Linked DNA regions of Homo sapiens: regions 1, 2, 3, 5 and 6 are each reported to be linked to region 4. Evidence: microRNA targets listed by miRTarBase, many of them from high-throughput screens and not tested one by one. Region 4 holds a microRNA gene; each other region holds the end of a gene's coding sequence.

Evidence for each region. Region 4 holds the annotated microRNA hsa-miR-761 (GCAGCAGGGUGAAACUGACACA, at 2,432-2,453, opposite strand). A microRNA usually pairs through its seed, bases 2 to 8, with sites in the 3' UTR of a target mRNA and lowers its output. Matches are read on the target gene's strand: a 7mer-m8 pairs with bases 2 to 8, a 7mer-A1 pairs with bases 2 to 7 and ends in A, and an 8mer does both.
Region 1: miRTarBase lists TFAP2C as a target of hsa-miR-761. Seed matches in the 3' UTR shown: 8mer at 927-934.
Region 2: miRTarBase lists NAP1L4 as a target of hsa-miR-761. The part of its 3' UTR that is shown has no 7-base or 8-base seed match.
Region 3: miRTarBase lists WDR81 as a target of hsa-miR-761. Seed matches in the 3' UTR shown: 7mer-m8 at 2,766-2,772 and 7mer-m8 at 2,633-2,639.
Region 5: miRTarBase lists C9orf78 as a target of hsa-miR-761. Seed matches in the 3' UTR shown: 7mer-m8 at 1,242-1,248.
Region 6: miRTarBase lists TRIM29 as a target of hsa-miR-761. Seed matches in the 3' UTR shown: 7mer-m8 at 359-365, 7mer-m8 at 683-689 and 7mer-A1 at 1,024-1,030.

What each region holds. Positions count from the first base shown.
Region 1 is chr20:56,637,711-56,641,815 of GRCh38, forward strand. TFAP2C (transcription factor AP-2 gamma) reads left to right here. Exons shown (of 7, transcript NM_003222.4): 7 at 18-1,573. The coding sequence ends at 303. Among named protein-coding and RNA genes, the nearest start is that of TFAP2C, 10 kb to the left of the region's middle.
Region 2 is chr11:2,946,030-2,950,122 of GRCh38, reverse strand. It overlaps NAP1L4 (nucleosome assembly protein 1 like 4), which reads left to right. Exons shown (of 16, transcript NM_005969.4): 15 at 859-896. The coding sequence ends at 864. Among named protein-coding and RNA genes, the nearest start is that of SNORA54, 16 kb to the left of the region's middle. RefSeq lists enhancers at 1,877-2,490, 2,491-3,106, 3,107-3,720, 3,721-4,093.
Region 3 is chr17:1,737,056-1,741,160 of GRCh38, reverse strand. It overlaps WDR81 (WD repeat domain 81), which reads right to left. Exons shown (of 10, transcript NM_001163809.2): 10 at 2,576-3,796. The coding sequence ends at 3,476. Among named protein-coding and RNA genes, the nearest start is that of SERPINF2, 3.8 kb to the left of the region's middle.
Region 4 is chr1:51,833,944-51,837,943 of GRCh38, forward strand. MIR761 (microRNA 761) reads right to left here and starts at 2,459; the gene lies at 2,401-2,459. It overlaps NRDC (nardilysin convertase), which reads right to left. Exons shown (of 31, transcript NM_001101662.2): 3 at 2,188-2,269; 4 at 74-227.
Region 5 is chr9:129,824,834-129,828,938 of GRCh38, reverse strand. It overlaps C9orf78 (chromosome 9 open reading frame 78), which reads left to right. Exons shown (of 9, transcript NM_016520.3): 9 at 687-1,649. The coding sequence ends at 778. Among named protein-coding and RNA genes, the nearest start is that of TOR1A, 2.8 kb to the right of the region's middle. RefSeq lists a silencer at 595-889.
Region 6 is chr11:120,108,618-120,112,722 of GRCh38, reverse strand. It overlaps TRIM29 (tripartite motif containing 29), which reads left to right. Exons shown (of 9, transcript NM_012101.4): 9 at 247-1,437. The coding sequence ends at 309. Among named protein-coding and RNA genes, the nearest start is that of TRIM29, 27 kb to the left of the region's middle.

The DNA of each region.
Region 1 (4,105 bases), not on the chromosome of region 4:
ACTGACTGTCTTCACAGGCAACTGTGTAAAGAATTCACAGAACTTCTCAGCCAAGACCGGACACCCCATGGGACCAGCAGGCTCGCCCCAGTCTTGGAGACGAACATACAGAACTGCTTGTCTCATTTCAGCCTGATTACCCACGGGTTTGGCAGCCAGGCCATCTGTGCCGCGGTGTCTGCCCTGCAGAACTACATCAAAGAAGCCCTGATTGTCATAGACAAATCCTACATGAACCCTGGAGACCAGAGTCCAGCTGATTCTAACAAAACCCTGGAGAAAATGGAGAAACACAGGAAATAAAATTGGAACGAAGAAAGGTTAGGAGAGTAGGGAAGGAACAGGACTGCAAAAATCCTTCTCCACCGCACAGACTGGGAACCCCTCCTGGCCTGGGGGAAGAGTTTGTTACCTACCTTACTATTTAAAGAGCCTTCACTGGTTCTGCATCACCCGCCCCTGGACTTCTTAGTTGTTTCTCTAGCGCTGAGCTATCTCCTAACTTTGGACCTATTATCAGAAGGTGACAAGTACTGGCTCTTTATTCATTAAGCTTTTTTTTTTTGAACCCCATTCTTTCCTTCTCTGAAAGTGGTGCTATAAGTTTTAGAATCTTTTAAATACATTCCCTGGGCCAACAGACCCACACACTTAGCCATTGAAATGTCAAATTGATGTGCCCTAGATCAACAGATCAACAATACCTTTTTTTTCAGTGTTAAGGTAATGGTTGGTTTTTGTGTCCGCTAAATATTTACCTTGAAAAAAAGAAAAGTGTGTATCTAGCTTCTTCAGAGATCAAGTCCTCTGGTAGGAGGCAAAGGTTCTATCTGCTTAGCAACTAGTTAATAAGTGGTATCTGACACACTCTAAACCCCGTGTTCAAACGGGGGCCTTCTGGTTTTAGGAAACTTGTAGAAACGAAGCCTGCTGATTGATTTTTTTCTCCTTTTTTTTTTTTTTTTTTTTTAACTTTGAAAGTTAACTCTTCAAATGGGAGACTCTTTGAAATGACATGTTCCTTTAAGGTACTGAAGCTTTATTTGCATATTTATTTCAGATGTTTCGAGTAAACTTGAAAAGGGTAGGCACGAAGCAATTTGTTGCTGCTTGTCACCCCCAAGTCCCCGTGGAGGTTCTGTATTTTAAGAAACAGTGCGTTGAGTGTACAGATTTTATTTATGCGTAATTTAATGGGGTCTGTAAATACTGGTGCACTTCTTACGACTTTTTTGAGACATGGGATCCAATTTTAATATTAACTTTTAATGGTGATGGGGTAATCTATAACACATCATAAGGTTTTATTCATATATATACAGGGTATTAAGAATTAAGAGGATGCTGGGCTCTGTTCTTGGCTTGGAAGATTCTATTTAATTGAAACTCTCTGTTCAGAAAGCAATAACTTTGTCTCGTTCCTGTTGGGCTGAACCCTAAGGTGAGTGTGCAGTACAGTGTGTGTGGGTGAAATGGAGATTTGGAATTGAACTCTCTGCCTGTAAATGTTCCCCAAATAATTGTTGTGTGTATGATACGTGTATAATAAAAGTATTCTTGTTAGAATCTGAAAGTCTGGCTATAGGTTTTTGTTTTTGCTTTTGTTTTAAAGTCTTTTGGGTGAATGGAATTAGGGCAGAGCTGATTTATGGCTTGACTGTGGCTTGGTTAATGCCCTGAGCAGGCAAGTTTTGTGTGCTGTTGGGGAGGAACCTGAAGTTTCACCTTTTCTCCCTAGCGACACTGTTCAGCTACCCCAGGCCTTATGCTGTCATCAGTGTCTCTCAACTGCAGAGGGATAGAATCATCCTCCCCACCCTGGAGGTGTTGGGAAATGTCTGAGGGACAGTTTATTGACATTAAGAGGGGCCAATGTTTTGGGAACAATGTCTCATGGAAGGTTACTGTATTGAGGACAGGTACACTGGCATACTGTACTCAGCATACTGTATAGTGGTCAAGAATGGAAGTGAAATGATTATGGGTGTTCTTTGGGCAGATGTTTCTCTCTTTTTTTTTTTTTTCTTTTTTTAAGATGAAGTCTCGCTCTTGGCCCCAGGCTGGAGTGCAATGGTGTAATCTCGGCTCACTGCAACCTCCACCTCCCGGGTTCAAGCGATTCTCCTGCCTCAGCCTCCTGAGTAGCTGGGATTACAGGTGCGTACCACCACACCTGGCTAATTTTTGTATTTTAAGTAGAGACAGGGTTTCACCATGTTGGCCAGGCTGGTCTCGAACTCCTGACCTCAGGTGATCTGCTCGACTTGGCCTCCCAAAGTGCTGGGATTACAGGCGTGAGCCACCGCGCCAGGCTGGGCAGGTGTTTCTTAGGAGGACTTGGCATTCAGTCGAATGCAAGCAGTGGACGTGCAGCATGCCAGTGTTTTCCATTCATCTAAGTTCTCTTTGGAAATGAGATCGTGCTCATCCACCCAAGACATCCTCTTCATTTCATCTGCCTGCAGGGGAAACCAGAGATTGAGTCTTTGTGCTACTCCAGGAGCAGAGGAGTCTGGCAGGGGTTATGTACTTGCTGGATGTTTGTGATGCACACGGCAGGTACTTGATCTCGAGTTGAAGCAGCCTGGCATCTCCTCCAGGAAGTGATGTGTTTAGAGTTTGCCATGTGTGGCCTGGCTTCAAAGGGAACTGGGAGCCGTAGGATTTTCCCCATTGGATAAGACCATTGCTTCAATGCCAGTTTTATAATCTTTAATTCATAATTCTCTACCAAATGCCCAACGATTCCTGACTTAATGTTGGCGTTGGATGTTATTAAGTAACTTAAACTCTGCCAACCCAGTGCTTTGCTCTTGGCATCTTGTCCTTGGCCACCAAGCATTCCCATTAAGTTGGATTTATCTGGTTGATATGACAAGATCACAATTGCTTTGCTTTGGAGTGGTGAAAAGAGATCTTAGGTTGGCAGTTATCTCTCAATCAAGGCTTGAAATGTTGAGTGTTAAGAGGAAGTTATGGGGGCAAAGGGCTGAAAGAAAAAGGGCTATTCTGTTATCAGCATCTTAACTTGCTTTTGGACCAGAGTCTGGCTTTTAGGAGCTGTGCTGAATTGCAACGCAGTCAGTGTTCTGGAAACGCCCCAAAGTCAACCAAGGATTGAAGGGAATCACAAGCAGTGCTTCTTTTTTATTTTTTTTTTGAGATGGAGTCTCACTCTGTTGCCCAGGCTGGAGTACAGTGGCTCGATCTCGGCTCACTGCAAGCTCCGCCTCCCGGGTTCATGCCATTCTCCTGCCTCAGCCTCTTGAGTAGCTGGGACTGCAGGCACCCGCCACCACACCCGGCTAATTTTTTTTGTATTTTTAGTGGAGACAGGGTTTCACCCTGTTAGCCAGGATGGTCTTGATCTCCTGACCTCATGATCCACCTGCCTCAGCCTCCCAAAGTGCTGGGATTACAGGCGTGAGCCACCACGCCCGCCCAAGCAGTGCTTCTTACTTGCCGGGTTCTTTCTCCACATCCCCACTGGAAGTCTGGGGACTGCCACTGAGCTCTTGAGTCTGATGCACGATAATGAGTTTTTCTTCCCAACACCTGAGCTGATGCTGTAGCCAAAAACCAGGTCCCCTCAAGAGGATCCTACTGAAACATTAGCTCCCTTGCAGATTTTTTTTTTTTTTTTTTTTTGAGATGGAGTCTCGCTCTGTTGCCCAGGCTGGAGTGCAATGGCATGATCTCAGCTCACTACAAGCTCCGCCTCCTCGGTTCACACCATTCTCCTGCCTCAGCCTCCCGACTAGCTGGGACTACAGTCGCCCGCCACCACGCCCAGCTGATTTTTTTGTATTTTTTAGTAGAGGCGGGGTTTCACCATGTTAGCCAGGATGGTCTCGACCTCCTGACCTCGTGATCCACCTGCCTCGGCCTCCCAAAGTACTGGGATTCCGGGCGTGAGCCACCGCGCCCAGCCCTCCCTTGCAGATTTTTCTGGAAACTCTTGCTTACTTGTGAAATAAGGGTGCAGTGCCCTTTGGCATTAGGTTGGTGGACCCTCGCTTCTCGTGGCCCAGAGTGGGTTTTGTTTCAAGCCCCATGTTAGTGGGAATCACCCTCCCTTTTCCCCTTGCCCTGTGCTGTTGTGGCA
Region 2 (4,093 bases), not on the chromosome of region 4:
ATCACAGTGTGCGGACAGGGAAGGTGAGGGCTGTCAGTCAGCCAGTGAACAACGTTGGGTGAATAAATGCTGCCCATCACTGCTGTGCGGGGTGTCTGATGGACCCAAGGGCCACGTGTGTTTATTGGGCTGTGTTTCCGCCTTGTGGGCGCTGAATGGACACTTTTAAGGTTGCAGTTGTAAAGCAAGGACTGGGGTCAATTGGCAGGGCCACCTCCTCAGACTCCGCGCACAGCTGCCTCTGTCCTTGTTGCACTTGTATCTCCCCCTCCCTGTATTCTGTGCCTCAGCTTCTCTTTTCCTCCCCTCTGTTGTTTGTTCTGCTTTCTCTGTCACCTTGGAGAACCTTGAGTCTCCTTTCACGTCCCAGGTTTCTAAAAGAGCATTCTCACCAGCCATTACAGAGAACATGATGTGGTGGATTACACATGCTAACACCCCATGAAACCTTTGATAAACGGTTATGTTGGTTGGGGGAGAAGGGACTAAAAACATGTTCCGGCTAATGGTGTGAATGAAGTTCAGAGACGGCCCGGCATGTGTGGCCAGGATAAGGCCAAGCCTGCTGTCCCTGTCACATGCACCTTCCAGAGAGATGGGCAGTGTTAGAGTCTGTGCAAGCAAAAGAAAACAAGGAAGGAAGGGAGGTTTTAGTATTGGGAGCAGTCTGATAGAAGTGAAAATCATGCTTCTGCCCATTTTGAAAGTATGATCTAGTGTTGAAGTTGTTCACCCCGAGTTCAGTATCTTGCAGCCCTTTTGTATCATGAGAAATTGTGGCCGTTTCCTCCTGTATAATTTTGTGCATTTCATTTTCTTTCATGCTGACAGTTCCTTTCAATTTTTTTCCCCATTTAGGTGTAATTTTTGTCTGTTAATCATTCATACGTTTCTAGGTAAGGTGGAATTCCATTCATACCTAACTTCCAAACTTCTGATCTATACTTTATACAATGCATTGTTTTGACTTTGAATAAAGAGGGAGTTGCTGTCCAGGTACACTCACTGTGTCACAGGTTTGACATAGGTGTCTGTTACATGTACTTTTAAAATCAACGAACCAAACCTAGATTTGGTCCCTGCTTTCTGAGCCCAGTGTTTCTTGCTAACCAAGTAGCAAAGATGTAACTTGGGTGTAATTTTCATTGCTGATGGTACTGCTTTCCAGTAAGAGGGCCCTGGATGGTCAGCAGTCTGCACGGTGGCACACACGGGCCACCATAAGCAAGCAGTCCTTGCAGAGAGCATAACACACTGGGCTGTCCCAGCTGTGCTCAGAACACACACTGGCAGTTGAAATTGGCCCACTGTCATTACCAACACGTGTCTGTTGAATATCTATACTTTTTGAATTCATGTTTTGTGCAGACCAATAGGTACACAGAGGGGTAACAGCTTTTACTGTGCCAGCATTTTTTATCTGAAACATGAACTGGCATCTGTTTTGGTGTCAGCAGTAAAAAGTACTGTTGTGAGGTTGGTGCTAGTTGAATGAAGCAAGAACCAGTTGTAGATGAAAGTGAGTGTCAGTAAGCCTGGAAGCTGTTTCCCACTCCACTTTCTTCAGTCCCTGTAGCTCTGCCCTGTCCTGGAATGCTGACAGGAGGCCGTAAGTAGACAGAGGCTCTTGCCCGTGACGAGACCTGTTCACTCGTGGCACTCGGGATGTAGTGGGAGAAAGCAGAGAGGTGGGGACAAGAGGTGCCATGAGGAACCCCACAACCATAGCAGGGCCTCTGCATGCCAGGATAAGTAGGCACTCCGTTTTTAAGGGTCTCGTCACAGAACATCAGCATGATCCTGGCAGCCCATAGACCAGACGTCCTTGAGGTCTTAGCGCCACCGCCTCCCTGTCTTCCTCATGTAGGCTGCTTTCATGGGAAACTGATGGTACATAGGGCGGATGCAGCTCTTGGAACGATTTTGTTTTCCAGGGCCAGGTTTCAGAATATGGCTGTATGTTTAAAATTATGTCTAGCTGCCATTAATTCCTGTTGTCCCCGCATGTCTGAAGAACTTAGCCACTCTTATTCCACCTGTACCCTCACCCACTCTCCCACGCCACCCCTCCCATGCCACCAGCTCTTTTGAAGAGAATCCTCGATGCGTGCCACCTATCCGTATTTCAGTATGCCTCCCTGGAAGAGAAGGGCAGGGTGCAACAGCAGCAACCCCCGAGGAGTGTCCCACTGAGGCTGCTGCCTCTTCAGCCATAGGGCTCTGGGCACTTGGGGCTTCTTCGCCAGCGCAGCTATGGTCGAGTGTGTTTCAGCGGCATGTCTTTGTTGCCTTTCTCAGGTCGAGTGTTATCTGTTCAAACCCCACCTTTTAAATGGTCCCATGAGAGATGAGATTTTTTTCCTATTAGTTGGTACCTTTTAAAATGCCAACTCCTCCTCCCTTGATAATCTTAGCATTGATTAATGACTCAACCATCATTAAAATTTGTGACATGAGATAAAGGACGCTTCAGTTTGGGAGTTTAGGTGTAGTTTTTTTTTTTTCGGCATGTGTCACAAGCTAAAAACAATTGGTGTCTCTCATATGTAAAATTCACTTCTAAAACTCCTGTCAGTCACTTGCAGAAGCTCCAGTGTGCTGTGTGAGCACCAAAGCCTGGCAGGGGTGGGCCACATGCTGCCTTCCTTCCCAGAGGGGGCTGTGCCCTCAAGGCACGGGGGAGGCAGCTCTTCCCAGAGTCAGGTGCATGGCCTACTCCCCTCCAGCAAGGCACTGGGTCATGACACCGGTCTTGAGAGAGTGTTCTATGCGGACTCTATTCCCTCTAGCAGTCTTCACCCAGGATATTGGTTTTATTTAGGACAGATGAATACTACATTCTCGTGGTTGAAAATACCTATTACATCATTTCTGCAACTTAGGATAATTTAGATTTATTTCTGGTTGAGCATTCCAAATCTGGAATCCTCCCGTGAGCATTTTCTTTGTCTTGGGTTCCAGATTTTGGAGTATCTCAGATTTGGGATTTGGGATGCTCAATCTGTGGTAGGATAAATTATAAAGTCCTGTGTATGACATGACATAGTATTTGCGTAATTTAAATGTACATAAAGATGGAGTCTGTCACCTTGTCACCAGCCCCAGTCTTCCCCGTCCCTGCACAGCTCCTTTACTGACATCCCATTTTCTAGGCGAGTCCCTTGGTGGAGGCACACTGCTTGTCCCACTCCTCCCCTCACTGCTCCTGCTCGGGGCGCCCTGCATCCCCCACACTCCTAAGGCCAGTGGCTCAGTGTTCTTGGCCACTACACTGGGCCACCTTCAGTCTACCCTTGAATGTCAGATTGACATGGCGAGGGTTTTTGGTCAGCCTCGTTTTGTCTTGGCCAGGCTCTTTGGGCAGCCTCTGGGGTGGCTGAGATTGGGAGCTTAGACACCAGGGTTCAAGGTTATTGATTTTGTTTTTTGCATATTTTACACATATTTTTTCGGCCATCCCTTAAATGTGATTTCCAAAAGAATGAACTGTAGCCTCAGCTTATACTGTGGAAGATATCATTTATGGTAACCCAGGGATCTTTTTGCCCCATACAGTACAAGTTCTTAGGTTCCATAGGCACGCTGGATTAAGGGCAATTTGTAATCTTAGCCAGAAATCATAGGTTACAGGTTCGTAAAGTTACTAGCGCAGAAGCATTAGCAAGATCGTGATGTATTTCTTAGGCTATTGTTGGCCTCCACACAAATTCATGGAGTTGCTGGATGTGGTTTAAAGGGTACAAGATCTCTGTGTTAGATAATATTGGAGTTAATCCATTCCTCTGGGAGGGGAATTTTGTGTCCCGGATGCCGTTACTGGAAGGATAGCATTGCCCCTTGGTGAGACTGTTAGGAGAGTGAAGGAGAGTGAGTGACAGATGGAGCTCTTGGGAGTGGCAGCTCATCATTTGTTGGTGCAGTACAGGCCACCAGAAGAGGATGGATCTGCCGGGGCGCTCCCTGGTAGTACAAAGAGCAGGAACCCGCTAGAGGAGAGATGTGCTTTCCATGAGCGCCAAGGGCCCAGCCTACCCCCAGACAGATGTGCCCTTGAGAAGTGGGGACTGTTGGCACCAAGAGGGGTTGCCTCCGC
Region 3 (4,105 bases), not on the chromosome of region 4:
GCTCCTTCCCACCCTCAGTGTCCGGCTCCTCACTCCCTGCATCAGGCCCCTTCCCACCCTCACTGTCCTGCGCCTCACTCCCTGCATCAGGCCCCTTCCCACCCTCACTGTCCTGCGCCTCACTCCCTGCATCAGGCTCCTTCCCACCCTCACTGTCCGGCTCCTCACTCCCTGCATCAGGCCCCTTCCCACCCTCACTGTCCTGCGCCTCACTCCCTGCATCAGGCCCCTTCCCACCCTCACTGTCCTGCGCCTCACTCCCTGCATCAGGCCACTTCCCACCCTCACTGTCCTGCGCCTCACTCCCTGCATCAGGCCACTTCCCACCCTCACTGTCCTGCGCCTCACTCCCTGCATCAGGCTCCTTCCCACCCTCACTGTCCTGCGCCTCACTCCCTGCATCAGGCTCCTTCCCACCCTCACTGTCCTGCGCCTCACTCCCTGCATCAGGCCGCCTCCCACCCTGACTGTCCTGCTCCTCACTCCCTGCATCAGGCTCCTTCCCACCCTCACTGTCCTGCGCCTCACTCCCTGCATCAGGCCGCCTCCCACCCTCACTGTCCTGCGCCTCACTCCCTGCATCAGGCTCCTTCCCACCCTCACTGTCCGGCTCCTCACTCCCTGCATCAGGCTCCTTCCCACCCTCACTGTCCGGCTCCTCACTCCCTGCATCAGGCCGCCTCCCACCCTCACTGTCCTGCTCCTCACTCCCTGCATCAGGCTCCTTCCCACCCTCACTGTCCTGCGCCTCACTCCCTGCATCAGGCCCCTTCCCACCCTCACTGTCCTGCGCCTCACTCCCTGCATCAGGCTCCTTCCCACCCTCACTGTCCGGCTCCTCACTCCCTGCATCAGGCTCCTTCCCACCCTCACTGTCCTGCGCCTCACTCCCTGCATCAGGCCACTTCCCACCCTCACTGTCCTGTGCCTCACTCCCTGCATCAGGCTCCTTCCCACCCTCACTGTCCTGCGCCTCACTCCCTGCATCAGGCTCCTTCCCACCCTCACTGTCCTGCGCCTCACTCCCTGCATCAGGCCGCCTCCCACCCTCACTGTCCTGCTCCTCACTCCCTGCATCAGGCTCCTTCCCACCCTCACTGTCCTGCGCCTCACTCCCTGCATCAGGCCGCCTCCCACCCTCACTGTCCTGCGCCTCACTCCCTGCATCAGGCTCCTTCCCACCCTCACTGTCCGGCTCCTCACTCCCTGCATCAGGCCACCTCCCACCCTCACTGTCCTGCTCCTCACTCCCTGCATCAGGCTCCTTCCCACCCTCACTGTCCGGCTCCTCACTCCCTGCATCAGGCTCCTTCCCACCCTCACTGTCCTGCGCCTCACTCCCTGCATCAGGCCCCTTCCCACCCTCACTGTCCTGCGCCTCACTCCCTGCATCAGGCTCCTTCCCACCCTCACTGTCCTGCGCCTCACTCCCTGCATCAGGCCGCCTCCCACCCTCACTGTCCTGCGCCTCACTCCCTGCATCAGGCCACTTCCCACCCTCACTGTCCTGCTCCTCACTCCCTGCATCAGGCTCCTTCCCACCCTCACTGTCCTGCGCCTCACTCCCTGCATCAGGCTCCTTCCCACCCTCACTGTCCTGCGCCTCACTCCCTGCATCAGGCTCCTTCCCACCCTCACTGTCCTGCGCCTCACTCCCTGCATCAGGCCGCTTCCCGCCCTCACACCTGCTCCTCACTCCCTGCATCAGGCCACTTCCCACCCTCACTGTCCTGCTCCTCACTCCCTGCATCAGGCTCCTTCCCACCCTCACTGTCCGGCTCCTCACTCCCTGCATCAGGCTCCTTCCCACCCTCACTGTCCTGCTCCTCACTCCCTGCATCAGGCTCCTTCCCACCCTCACTGTCCTGCGCCTCACTCCCTGCATCAGGCTCCTTCCCACCCTCACTGTCCTGCGCCTCACTCCCTGCATCAGGCCGCCTCCCACCCTCACTGTCCGGCTCCTCACTCCCTGCATCAGGCTCCTTCCCACCCTCACTGTCCTGCGCCTCACTCCCTGCATCAGGCTCCTTCCCACCCTCACTGTCCTGCGCCTCACTCCCTGCATCAGGCTCCTTCCCACCCTCACTGTCCTGCGCCTCACTCCCTGCATCAGGCTCCTTCCCACCCTCACTGTCCTGCGCCTCACTCCCTGCATCAGGCTCCTTCCCACCCTCACTGTCCTGCGCCTCACTCCCTGCATCAGGCTCCTTCCCACCCTCACTGTCCTGCGCCTCACTCCCTGCATCAGGCTCCTTCCCACCCTCACTGTCCTGCGCCTCACTCCCTGCATCAGGCCGCCTCCTACCCTCACTGTCCTGCTCCTCACTCCCTCCATCAGGCCCCTTCCCACCCTCACTGTCCTGGAAACTGCTGGGTCTCGACTTTCCCCACCCTGACACCACCAGCAAGATAAGCCTCAGGCTGGGCGTGGTGGCTCATGCCTGTAATCCCAACACTTTGGGAGGCCGAGGCAGGAGGATCGCTTGAGCCCAGGAGTTGGAGACCAGCTTGGGCAACATAGTCAGACTCCATCTCTATTGAAAAAAAAAAAAAAGACAAGCCTCAGTTCACCCCATGGCTCTTCCAAAGGATTTATTGGTCCTATTTACATCTATTGCAAATTGTGAGAAGGCAGCAGGGGCCAACCCCTGGACCTCATCTCTGTCTAGAATGTGAGGTCGCAGGGATGCTTAAGTCTTCCTCTGGCAGAGACCCGAGGTGCAGAGATGATTCTTCTCACCCCTTCTCTCAGGGTCGTGGAGCCCCAGCAGGGGTTCAGGGCCCAGAGGCTGCCCCCTCAGCTGAAGGCACAAACACTGTGGTAGGGGTGGGCAGACAACGCATGGACTCACTCCTGGCAGGCGCCACTGGCCAAGTGCACCTTTTCCCCCTGCTCCTAGCCTCCTTCTTCCTTCCCGTCCCGGTCCCACACTGGCCAGGGCCTGGATGGGTGGCCACTTAAACCCCAGACCCAAGCCCTTAACTCCTGGACCACGGCCAGCCTTCCTTAGGCTGGAATCCAAGCACCATCAGTGCCCTGGACCAGGCCAGCTTCCCTGTCCTAGAGGGATGGGACAGAGAGTGCCCAGCGGGGGCTGAGGGGCTAGAGACCGGCTGGGCAGGGCCAGTCTCCCTTCCCCTTCCCGAGCTTCCCTGTCCTCATGTGGACCCAGAGGGCAGAGCTGGGGAGAAGTGAAGGTAGCAACGCTTCCTCCTGCTCTTAACTTCCTGCTTGCTAGGAGCCCTGTGTCCCCAAGCCATGAATGAGACCCCTCTGGCAGGCTTGGTGGCTCTGGTGATTCAGGGGCCAGGACTCCCCCACTCCATTTGCAGGCCCTAGTTGGCAGGCCATGTGGGCACCCAGGGCGTGGGACCCAGGGCCTCCCTGGAGGGAGCTGCTGCTCAGGGAACAGGGTGAGTGGACACGCGCCCGCAGATGTCTTCCCACCCTTGCCCGGCCAGCTCCTGCCTCAGTCTATGCCAGGAGGCGGATAACCCCGTTGTCTGAGCCCAGCAGGAGGTGGCGTTTAGTGGGCAGCAAGGCCAGGCTGGTGAGCGTGCCGCGGAAGTTCTCAGAGCTGAGCTTCGTGGTGGCCTGCGAGGGTGGCTCAAGCAGGGAGCAGACGCCAATCTTGTTGGACACGGTGCCAGTGACCACCTCGCTGCCGTACAGGTCAAAGGTGTGGATGGGGTCGGATGCTGACTTGTAGTGATGGGTGGGCTTCTGCTCCAGCTCCTTCCAGACGGTCAAGGAATGGTCAGAGGAGGAGCTGACCAGGACGCTGCCCTCCACCGCCTGTCCCGGGAGAGGAGAGCCTCAGCAGGAGCCTGGGTCCTTCTGCATACCCTTGGGCCCCAAGGCCTTCCCAGTTCCCTCCGCAGTTTCTCTCCAGGGAGACAGGCCGTCCTGGGTGGGTGACAAGCCGCCACCCTCCCACACACACCATATTCACGTTGGTTCATTTTAATACGCTCAGCATCCGTAACCCAGTCGTCACTCTAACTTGAGAACTACGCACAGGCATGGTGCCAGGCGTGCACGTGACGACCTTGACCTTCGTAACAACCCTATGCGGTGGATGCTGCCATTGTCCCCATTTCACAA
Region 4 (4,000 bases):
ACAAGAACACTCTATTTACATTTGCAAAGTGCCATTAGATCATTAAAATTAAAGTATATTTAGAGTTAGTTACCTATCAAGAGCTTCCTTGAAGTACTTCCTCTGGACATCAAACTGAAAGACAGTGCGTTCACAATCAGTTGAGGCATTATCACTACCCCCATGCTTCTTCAGGAAGGCATCAAATCCATTCTCATCTGGATATTTCAAACTACCCATGAATACCACTAAATGGAAAGAACACAAAGTCACACAACACAAAGATATAGAAAATATTTTTATCACACATGAACTTTCTTATATGCATAGAAAAACTGAAAGAAAATAGACCAACACATCAAATGGTTATGTCTGAATTCTTTTTTTTTTCTTTGAGACAGAGTCTCACTCTGTTGCCCAGGATGGAGCACAGTGGTGCAATCTTGGCTCACTGCAAACTCTGCCTCCTGGGTTCAAGTGATTCTTGAACCTCCTGGGTTCAAGTGTCTCAGCCTCCCAAGTAGCTGGATTACAGGCACTTGCCACCATGCCTGGCTAATTTTTTGTATTTTTAGTAGAGATGGGGTTTCACCAGGTTGCCCAGGCTGGTCTCCAACTCCTGACCTCAAGTGATCTGCCCACCTCGGCCTCCCAAAGTGCTGGGATTACAGGCGTGAGCCACCACACCTGACCCTAAATAATACTTTCTTCATTACATTTGATTTTGTAACTTTCTATTATGCTCATGTTACTTTTATACTAAAAAAAAAAAATTTCATCTTTAAAGAAAGATAAGACGAACATATAACTTATAAAGAGATCACAAATATATTTAAGTCTAAATAGATTAAAATTCACCTTTTATTAATTAGATTAAAATTCAAACAAATTCACAAACATATATGCAGATTAACTGCTACTGCTGTTACAACTTAATCTCTTCAATTAAATTTAAGGAGATTAAAATTTAAGCACAAACATATGCAGATTAATGGCTACTATAAAAATTCACAAAGTAAGAAGTATACCCTCAAATACTTTAGAAAACCAGACCATTAAAAAAAGAGTAATTTAAAATAAATATTTGTAAAATAAAAATAAATATTTGTAACTATATAACATCCACATAGAGTTTTTTTGTTTGTTTGTTTGTTTTTGAGCTGGAGTCTCGCTCCGTCACCCAGGTTGGAGTGCAATGGCGTGATCTCGGCTCACTGCAACCTCCGCCTCTTGGATTCAAGTGATTCTCCTGCCTCAGCCTCCAGAGCAGCTGGAACTCTAGGTGTGCGCCACCATGCCCGGCTAATTTTTGTGTTTTTGTAGAGATGGAGTTTCACCATGTTGGCCAGGCTGGTCTCGAACTCCTGACCTCAGGTGATCCACCTGCCTTGGCTTCCCAAAGTGCTGGGATTACAGGAGTGAGCCACCGCGCCCGGCCCCGTGTAAGTTTTATTTAGGTACATTCCAAATTAAATGAAAAGCTTCTATTGTTTTGTTTTTATATTAATCATGCCTTTTGAATTTCTAGGTTTTTTTTGTTTCTTGTTTTTTTTTTTTTTTTTTTGAGACAGTCTTGCTCTATCACCCAAGCTGGAGTACAGTGGCACAGCCTCAGCTCACTGCAACCTCTACCTCCCAGGTTCAAATGATTCTCTTGCCTCAGATTCCCAAGTAGCTGGGACTACAGGTGTATGCCACCACGCCCAACTAATTTTTGTATTTTTAGTAGAGATGGGGTTTCACCATGTTGGCCAGGCTGGTCTCGAACTCCTGACTTCAAGTGATCCACCCACCTCAGCCTCCCAGAGTGCTGGGATTACAGGCGTGAGCCACCTCACCCAGGGAATTCCTGTATTTCTGATGTTTGGCTGGGGGCCTTGCTAACCCTGGAAGGGACTGCCCTCCCCAGGACTGGTCATTTCCTAGAAAATGGCAATCATCTCCTGATCCGTTGGCCTTAACATAGCTCAACAATAGTGACATCTACAGTTTAAAAGTTTTCTGTGTGGTTTCATTCTAACTCTCAATATAAGTACACTCAGATTGTTTCCCCCACGATATTCATAAATCAAGGATTTTTTCTTAGCCTTTTCTCTTGCTAAATATATCATACTTCTGTCAAATCACTTGCTAATCTTTGATATCAATTCATATAAGTTTGGAGGGGGGAAAAAAACACACCAGGAATGATATTTTACAAATTCTTACTGTGCTCCAAAAAGTGTGCCAGCCCCGGCAGGTCATCTGGATCAGCGAAACTCCCAACTCCAACACAAAGAGCCGCTGCAGACTGGAGTAATTAGAACACATACAAATAGTTGAGTCAACCCTAAAGGAATAATATTCGCATCTTATCTTAAGGATTCATTTGGAGATGGATGTTTTCCAATAGGAGTAACAAAATTCTTTCCCTGAGAATCAGGAGGAGCAGCAAAGTGAAACTCACCAGAACTGTGTCAGTTTCACCCTGCTGCTCCTCCGCTTGCCATCCTGCCAAATGCTGAACAGGTGCAGACCTAAGGAAAAAAAGCAGAAACAGACAGAAAAAAAGGGAAGAGGGACTGGACAGCCCACCCAAATATCATTTCATGTCAGCATTTCATAATTCTGAACCAAGTTTTTTCCCTGAATTACTAGATTTTGGAAATCTGCGGAAGTAACATATCTAGATAGATATCTCTGAAGATCTCTAAGCAATTAAAAGCTTTGTGTTGAGTGACTCAGTTACTAGATGTGAAACCTGTCAACATGTAACTTAGAAAATTTTGTTAAGATAGAATAAGATAACATTTTAGGAAAACATCTAACAAAAATAGTAAGTGATAAAAAAAGATAAAATCGGTAGCTATTAAAAAGTATAACTAAATTTTAAAGAGGCTTTTTAGTTCTTCACTTCTAATTGAAGATATACAGCATATATTACTTATCAGTATATATTCTCCCAATACTTTGGGAAAATCAGAGTTTTTAACAAAATTGATGGCCAAGAGGTACACCAAACTGCACTTAAAATGATTGGGACTTTTTTTTTTTTTTTTTTTTAAGACAGGGGTCTTGCTATGAGGCCCAGGCTGGTCTCAAACTCCTGGACTCAAACAATCCTCCCACCTCAGCCTCTCAAAGTGCTGGGATTATAGGCGTGAGCCACTGCACCCGAACTATTGGGGCATAATTACAGTAAGTTAAAAGACAAAAAAAGGAGAAAAAACGGTCAATTTGAATCCTTGAAGATAGAAAGGCGAATTATTAACTTTCCCAAATTTGTTTTCTTCAAACTTTTGTAAATGTCAATTTTACAGGGCTAACATATTTGGTGAAACAGATTGTTTTAATAAACAGTTACCTCTTAAAAAAGAGCTTTTCAAAAATAGCATGTACCTGGCATAAAGTCTAGCCATGTGTCAGAAAATGAGTGTGTTTTCAGAAGAACCAAACAGCCTCACTTGATACTATAAACCCCATTTTGAAGACTTAGGCACATAAACTCAGTTAAAACATTGGGGAATATCCAGTTCTTCAAACCACAATCTAACCTGTTCTGTGATGTTTTAATAGGTGCCTAACCTGCTTTCAGCTCCAACTACCCCATAAAGATTTCTTGTCTCGACCAGCAGGGTTGAAGACATTTTTGAATAAGTTGACTTAAACCACAGTCTATCAGTCAGCTTTGACCACAGCAAAAACAGGCTCTGCAATTGCTAGAAAAGAAATTCATACTTGAGAATTTTCTACCTAAAAAATTCAGACCTGAGAAATTCATACTTGAGAACTGAATTAAGAAAGCCCTGAACAAATCTTAATTCAATGTATATCATATTCAAATTTCAACCTTGTTAATTTATCAAACTTTTAAAATCAAGAACAACTTCTTTTGGGAGGAGGAAAACGGAGAGGGATAAAAAAGATGCCTCAGAAAAGTAGTTAACTTCTTAATTAGGTAAATGTTATTCAAAAAACGATCAAATATCTTTCTTCTCAATTCCTTTATTAATTCTCACATTTACCTTAAACAAGTTTCACA
Region 5 (4,105 bases), not on the chromosome of region 4:
TAGAAAATTTCAGTAAGGACAAATAAAAGCTACTCATAAGGTTAGCTGGGTGCAGTGCCTCACACTTGTAGTCTCAGCTGCTGGGGAAGCTGGGACAGGAGGATTGCTTGAGACTAAGAGTTCAAGGCTGCAGTGAGCTATGATTGGACCACTGCACTCTAGCCTGCGTGACAGAGTGAGACCACATCTTTTTTTTAAAGAAAAGAAAAAGGTATTGGCCATGCTCGGTGGCCCATGCCTGTAATCCCAGCACTTTGGGAGGCAGAGGCAGGCAGATCACCTAAGGTCAGGAGTTCAAGACGAGCCTGGCCAACATGGTGAACCCCGTCTCTACTAAAAATACAAAAATTAGCCAGGTGAGGTGGCAGGTGCCTGTAATCCCAGCTACTCAGGAGGCTGAGGCAGGAGAATCACTTGAACTCGGGAGTTGGAGGTTGCAGTGAGCTGAGATCATGCCATTACACTCTAGCCTGGGCAACAGGGTGAGACTCCATCTCAAAAAAAAGAAAAGAAAAGAAAAAAAAAAAGACAAATACGTATCTACTGAGGCCCTACTGTGTTCACTGGGTTAGGCGCTGGGGCTCCTGTGGGGAAGGAAACAGGCAGTTGTCTTTGCCTGCATGGAGTAAAGTCTAGCAGTGGGTTCCAGCATGGCAAACCACCTTTCCTGTTCTTTTCCTTCTCAGGGTCCCCTCCTAACCGCAAGCGTCCTGCTAACGAGAAGGCAACTGATGACTATCATTATGAGAAGTTCAAGAAAATGAATAGGCGGTACTGAGTTGTGCAGAGTGGGATGTAAATATCGCCTTCCTCTCCCTATATCCCTCCCATGAAAAATGGCTTCCTGGCCGGGCGTGGTGGCTCCTGCCTGTAATCCCAGCACTTTGGGAGGCCGAGGTGGGCGGATCACCTGAGGTCGGGAGTTTGAGACCAGCCTGACCAACATGGAGAAACCCAGTCTCTACTGAAAATACAGAAAAGTTAGCCAGGCGTGGTGGCACATGCCTGTAATCCCAGCTGCTCAGGAGGCTGAGGCAGGAGAATTGCTTGAACCCAAGAGGCGGAGGTTGTGGTGAGCCGAGATTGCACCTTTGTACTCCAGCCTGGGCAACGAGCAAAAAACTCTGTCTCAAAAAAAAAAAAAAAAAAAAAAAAGAAAAAGAAAAATGGCTTCCAGGACAGAGCATGCTCATTTGCTGGCGGACAGTTCCAGAAACAGACCCTGTTAGTCCTTCTACTTACCTGCTGGATTTTTCAAGCACTAAATTTATAACTTTTTGAAACAAAATAATGTGTAATTTTCCATTTGGGGGCAAACTCTATTCTTGTGAGCATTATTAAATCTTGTTTGTAAATATATTGTCTTTCTCTTAATATTTGCTCTGGGTCAGGAAGAAGCTGTTCACGGTGTGATAATACTCTTTAGATTGTGCTTTCATTATTATAGATGCATCATGTCTTCTGCTTTCACGTGTCTGGGATGGGGTCAGAAATGCATCCTCCAGCTGACAGAAAAATCCAGGATGAGATCAGAAGGATACTGGTGTTTTCTGACTTTTACAAAATTACTTGTTTGTTTTCATTAAAAAAAAAGCATAAACTATGTTTCTTATTACTATTAGAATTATTAAATTTCAAAATGAATCCAACCTTATTGTTTGTATTATGTTTCTTATACCAGCATCAGGTAATGTTTTTAAAGCCCATGGTTTGGGTAGCCTAAATGTAAAACTGAATTACTGAGATGGATTTTCTCATTTATTTCAAACAGTGAGCTATGATTGGACCACTGCAGCATAGACATGCTGCAACCTGCTGTCAAGTACCTTCTTACCTGTGCCCTCATTTTTCCTGAGGCATCCACAGGGGTCCAAAAGAGGAAAGAGCAGATTGGCTGACTTCTGGGTGGATTTAGAGCAGGTATTGTGGTTACAGTGGTTTGGCCCAGGAGTCAGATCTGAGCCCACCTCGCAGCTTACTACTTGTGTCCTTGGACAGATCCTTTTCACTCTTAGCCTCAGTTTTCTCATCTGTAAAATGGAGATTTTTTTTTTTCCTCCACTTGAATATGGTCAGTGAAGGCAGGAACCATGTGTGCCTAATTTTTAAATTTGAATCCCCAGGGCATAGCCCATAATCTGACAGATAGGCAGTCCTCAAAACTATGAATGATCCCTATAGTGTTTGGCTTGTAACAGGTGCACAAAAGTATTTTAAATCCAATACGAAAAAGTCGAAACTTAAAAAATATTTTCAGGATATTTCAACAAACATTTACAGGTCCCAGCGATGTGCAGGGGTAACCCAAGATGAATACTAAAGGCCTAGCACATCTGGCACACAGCAACGCAACACGTGTTTATGGGATGAACAGGCAAATAAGTGGATGGTCAACAGTTCTCACTTGCCAGAGTTCCCTTTGCTAGAAAATGAGTAATCTTTTATCCAGCTTAAAAGTGGCTGCCAGATGGAGGGAGCTGGTTCTCTCACTGTTGGGGTGGGAATTCACAGATAAACAAGGGGAGGAGGCTCCAATGATCTGTGTAATGGATTAGAGTTGGAGATGTCAGCACGAGCTCATGTTTAGCTTAATATAGGTACAGATGTTTACCTATAAAAATATTTATAGATATGTGTGTGTTTAACAGTATATACACACATTTTTTTCTGTCAGCTGAGACTGAAAGAAATGACATCTCAATAGCAAGAAGCACACCTAGCACCCAGACCTTGGTTTCTCTTTTTTTTTTTTTTTTTTTTTTTTGATACGAAGTCTCGCTCTGTCACCCAGGCTGGAGTGCAGTGGTGCGATCTCGGCTCACTGCAACCTCCACCTCCCAAGTTCAAGGAATTCTCCTGTTTCAGCCTCCCATGTAGCTGAGACTACAGGCACACGCAACCATGCCTAGCTAATTTTTTTGTATTTTCAGTAGAGATGGGGTTTCACCATATTGGTCAGGCTGGTCCCAAACTCCTGACCTCAGGTGATGCACCTGCCTCAGCCTCCCAAAATGCTGGATTACAGGCATGAGCCACCATGCCCAGCCAGTTTCTAATGCCATTTTACAATGAAAGGAATCAGGGTTCCTCGTAGAAAATAGGATTCTAGGACTGGGGCAGGAAATACAAGATGAGCCCGGAGTATCCTGTAGTGTCAGAAAGGAAAGAGGCACTCAAACCCAAATAAGCTGGTATATACACTGGGTGTATGTCAAAGGAGCACAAGGAACCACTCAAATTCCCAGTGGCCAAAATGAGAACAATTTGAAAAAAAAATTAGTACTGTAGTATAACAAAGGATAAAATAACAATGGTCCACACTGATATAAATGATTGAATACATGGGGGAGAAGAAACAAATCTCCCATGCAGAATTCCAAATAATTTCTGTAGATACTCTGCCCCCAAGGAGGTGGAGCAAAATCCCCGACTCCTTACGTGTGGGCTGTGCATGGGGACGTCCTTCCAAAGAGTACAGTAGAGAAAAGAGGGGTGGGGGGACCTGACAAACACTACTTCAGTCAAGTGATCAAGTCAGCACCAACAGTGGTAAGTAACGTTGAACAGTAAGAACCCTTCCTTGGTAGGATGTGATGAGCATAGCACTTTACCTCTGTGATCTTCCTTCCAAAACGCCATAACGCTTGTCTAATCCTGAGAAAAACATCAAATCCCAATAGAGGGCCAGCCCACCAAAGATTTGGCCAGTACTCCTCAAAACTATCAAGGTCATCAAAAATAAAAAGCTGAGGCCAGGCGCGGTGGCTCACGCCTGTAATCCCAGCACTTTGGGAGGCTGAGACGGGCAGATCATGAGGTCAGATCAAGACCATCCTGGCCAACATGGTGAAACCCCGTCTCTACCAAAAATACAAAAATTAGCCGGGCATGGTGGTGTGTGCCTGTAATCCCAGCTGCTCAGGAGGCTGAGACAGGAGAATCGCTTGAACCTGGGAGGCAGAGGTTGCAGTGAGCTGAGATCATGCCACTGCACTCCAGCTAAAATAAAAATAAAAGGCTGAGACACTGTCATTAACAGTAGTCTAAGACATGACAACGAAATATAATGTGGTATCCTGAATGGAAACCTGCAGCAGAAAAAGGC
Region 6 (4,105 bases), not on the chromosome of region 4:
AGGTTCAAGCTCACCCACTAACTATGGGAATGGACTCCAATTAGGATTCCAATCTGGAGATCCTGACATTAGGGACCAGCCCCTGATCACAGGGTAGGTAAATCTTGCAGATCAGGCCAAAAAGGCCCCTAGAATTGTCGGGTCTTGGATCACTGCTGCCTCCTGAGGCAGGTTAGGGTAGGGTGGGTCTAGCTAGCAGGCTCATCTGTCGTCTGGCCTCGCTGACCACTCTTGTTTCCCCCACAGTCTCACTACCGGCCATTCTACGTCAACAAAGGCAACGGGATTGGGTCCAACGAAGCCCCATGAGCTCCTGGCGGAAGGAACGAGGCGCCACACCCCTGCTCTTCCTCCTGACCCTGCTGCTCTTGCCTTCTAAGCTACTGTGCTTGTCTGGGTGGGAGGGAGCCTGGTCCTGCACCTGCCCTCTGCAGCCCTCTGCCAGCCTCTTGGGGGCAGTTCCGGCCTCTCCGACTTCCCCACTGGCCACACTCCATTCAGACTCCTTTCCTGCCTTGTGACCTCAGATGGTCACCATCATTCCTGTGCTCAGAGGCCAACCCATCACAGGGGTGAGATAGGTTGGGGCCTGCCCTAACCCGCCAGCCTCCTCCTCTCGGGCTGGATCTGGGGGCTAGCAGTGAGTACCCGCATGGTATCAGCCTGCCTCTCCCGCCCACGCCCTGCTGTCTCCAGGCCTATAGACGTTTCTCTCCAAGGCCCTATCCCCCAATGTTGTCAGCAGATGCCTGGACAGCACAGCCACCCATCTCCCATTCACATGGCCCACCTCCTGCTTCCCAGAGGACTGGCCCTACGTGCTCTCTCTCGTCCTACCTATCAATGCCCAGCATGGCAGAACCTGCAGCCCTTGGCCACTGCAGATGGAAACCTCTCAGTGTCTTGACATCACCCTACCCAGGCGGTGGGTCTCCACCACAGCCACTTTGAGTCTGTGGTCCCTGGAGGGTGGCTTCTCCTGACTGGCAGGATGACCTTAGCCAAGATATTCCTCTGTTCCCTCTGCTGAGATAAAGAATTCCCTTAACATGATATAATCCACCCATGCAAATAGCTACTGGCCCAGCTACCATTTACCATTTGCCTACAGAATTTCATTCAGTCTACACTTTGGCATTCTCTCTGGCGATGGAGTGTGGCTGGGCTGACCGCAAAAGGTGCCTTACACACTGCCCCCACCCTCAGCCGTTGCCCCATCAGAGGCTGCCTCCTCCTTCTGATTACCCCCCATGTTGCATATCAGGGTGCTCAAGGATTGGAGAGGAGACAAAACCAGGAGCAGCACAGTGGGGACATCTCCCGTCTCAACAGCCCCAGGCCTATGGGGGCTCTGGAAGGATGGGCCAGCTTGCAGGGGTTGGGGAGGGAGACATCCAGCTTGGGCTTTCCCCTTTGGAATAAACCATTGGTCTGTCACTTCTCTTGTATTGAATGACCATTTCCCTGAGGGTCCCCAGAGGAACAGGCTGCAGTTCTTCTGAATGCACTTTTTCCCTCTGATGAAGGCACGGTCATCTTCCTGCTCTCCTCTCAGAAACGTGGCTCCTTTGAAACTCCCTTGACCTCCCTCACCCTGTCTGGGACACAGGGGGTGCAGTGCAGGAACCTGGGCCTCAGGGAGGCACGCCTTGGCTAACAATGAACACAGGGAGAATGACAGTGGGGTGTGGGCCTGGGGATATGCTCAATACCTTCTGCCATGCTCAGACCTTCTGGCCGGCCCACCCTAGAGTTCCCAGGGGGAGAAGGGCCCAGAAGTGGCTGGGAGCCAAGCACTCTGGTGCTCAGACGCAGGCTGGAGTGGAAGTCCACTGGAGGCTTCAGACCTGAGGGCCTTCTCAGTGCACAGAGGGCCTTCTGGGAAGGAGAGCTCCCCTTTGAGGCTGGCAGGAGGGTCAGGCTCCTGAAGACAGCATCATCCTGGGCTTGGGGGACGGAGGAAAGGGAAAAGGCCTTCCAGTCCCTGGAAACTCAGAGAAGCCTGGAAGGAGAGTCAGGGAAGTCTTCCTGGAAGAGGTGAGCAAGCCAGGAGGAGGCATGATGGTAGAGAGGGAAGAGGGTGTCAAACAACCACATTCTTTTTCCTGGTGTGGCAGGGACACCCGGGCCCCTCTGTTCTCACTGTTCTTCCTCACTCTGCTCCCCACCAGGGGCCTGATGACATCAGGGGAGCAGTCCCTCTGTCCTAGTAAAAGTCCCTAAGCAAGCTGGCTGCTGGTCCATCGTGGAGGGACAACACTCTTCCTTCCTCCTCTCCACGCTGCTGGGCCAGGGAGCTTTAGGAGCCAAGCAGCCAGGCTTGCCACGAAGGGGCTCTTGGGATTGAGAAAGTGAGGGAGAAATGGCAGAGAAGAGAGAGAAGGGGGAGACAGGAGGGTAAGGGTGAGAAAGGAAAGGAAGGAGAAGGGGCCAAGTGTGTCCATGGAGGACCTTCCAGCACTGTCAAGAAGAGAGACCACAAGTTGGACCCACATGCTTTGGCCACCTGGGTGGTGTTCTCCCTTGGGAGCTGGGACTGCAGAGTGTCCCTGGGGTTAGTTGCTGCTCCCTACAGCCCCCTGCCCTGGGTGCTGGTTCCCTACGTGGTGCCCCAGCAGGTCCACCTCTGTGGGCACCGTGCCCTGCAGCCTCCTGGCCCTTCTTGAGGACCCTGGGGTTGTGATGGTGATAAGGACCCATTCCTGGGCTCCAGAGATGCCCGGACTCTCAGAAAGACCCTGGCCACGAGAGGCTCCCAGTTCTCCAGGCCCTGCCCTAAGCCTACCAGCTCCAGAGAAGGGGAACTGGATGGGACACCAGGTCTGGCTAAATTCCCCTGTGGGGGCAGCCAGGCCCTTGCCTGTCCCATGCCTGGGCTGCACCAGGGGCTGCACCTGCTGCACAGAGGCTGGCTGGTGGGATGTTGGGAAGACCGCTGTGTCAGGAGGCCCAGGGCTGTGCTGGGAACTGGGCGGGGACGTCGCTGAGCATCACACTCTCCCCATCAATCCCCACCAGGTCCATTATCGTCTGAGCTGTGATTATAAAGCAATCAGGGAAATCCTTTCTTCCCAGTTCTTGAGAATGCCTCTGTCCCCAGCATGAGTGAGAATAGGAGGTTTAATCCTCCTATTAGGGAGGAAGGAGGGGGGCAAGGCTCTATATCCACTTCTGTTCCTCTCAGACCCAGACAGTCCTGGCCCATGCTCCCTTGTCTCCTGCCCTCTCCCAGCTCTGGGCGTTGGGTGATTCTCAGAGGTGTGGGTAGCCCCCTGGCAGACCAGCGAGGAGGGAGGCAGCAGAGGGGCTCAGCAGGGAGCTCTGGCAGGGTAGTTGGGAGCCCTGAGTCTCATCCAGGCTCTGTTGCTTGGCTGTGTGATCTGGGCTAATTGCTTGCCCTTTCTGGGTCTGACCTTCTCCATCTACAAAATGAGGTGTATTCATTGGATCATTTCTGGGGTTCTTTCCCAGCTCCAACAGCCTGTGAGGTGGAGACCACAGCAAAAGGAGGGTTGGAAGGGACAGGAACATTGAGCTTGGTGTCAGGTTGGGAATCCACCATCAGACCTGGGCTGATAGGCAGGCAGGTTGGACTCCCAAATCTCCAAGGCTCCCTGTACCCAGCCCCGTGCCTCTCCTTTCCTTTAGACCCTGTCAGGGGCATGGGTCCCCATCTGAGAAGCCTTCTCTGTCCAGGACGGGGGAAGGCTGGAGACGCAGGAGCTTCTGAGCTCTGCTCTGGGCCTCAGGACCTGCTGGAATGTGGACTCCGTGATAGCAGGGGTTATTCCATCATGTTGTCCTAGAACAGTGCCTGGCACGTGGGCGGGCCTTGGAGGCTAAGAAGCAGTTAACTGGGAAGAGGAAGTGGGAGAGGAAGGTGAAAAAATCAAAAGGGGAGCTGGAAGGCATCCAATAATGGGTGCCTGGTACATTTCATTGTGTGGAGAGCTGAGGCATAGGCTTCTGAGGGCACTGTGTGGAGCTGGAGCCACACTGTCAGGGCCAGAATCCTGGCTGCACTGCCCATCAGCTGTAAGACCAGGGCCAAGCTGCCCACTCTGTCTGAGCTTCAGTGGGGATAACATCTTAAAGGACTGCTGTG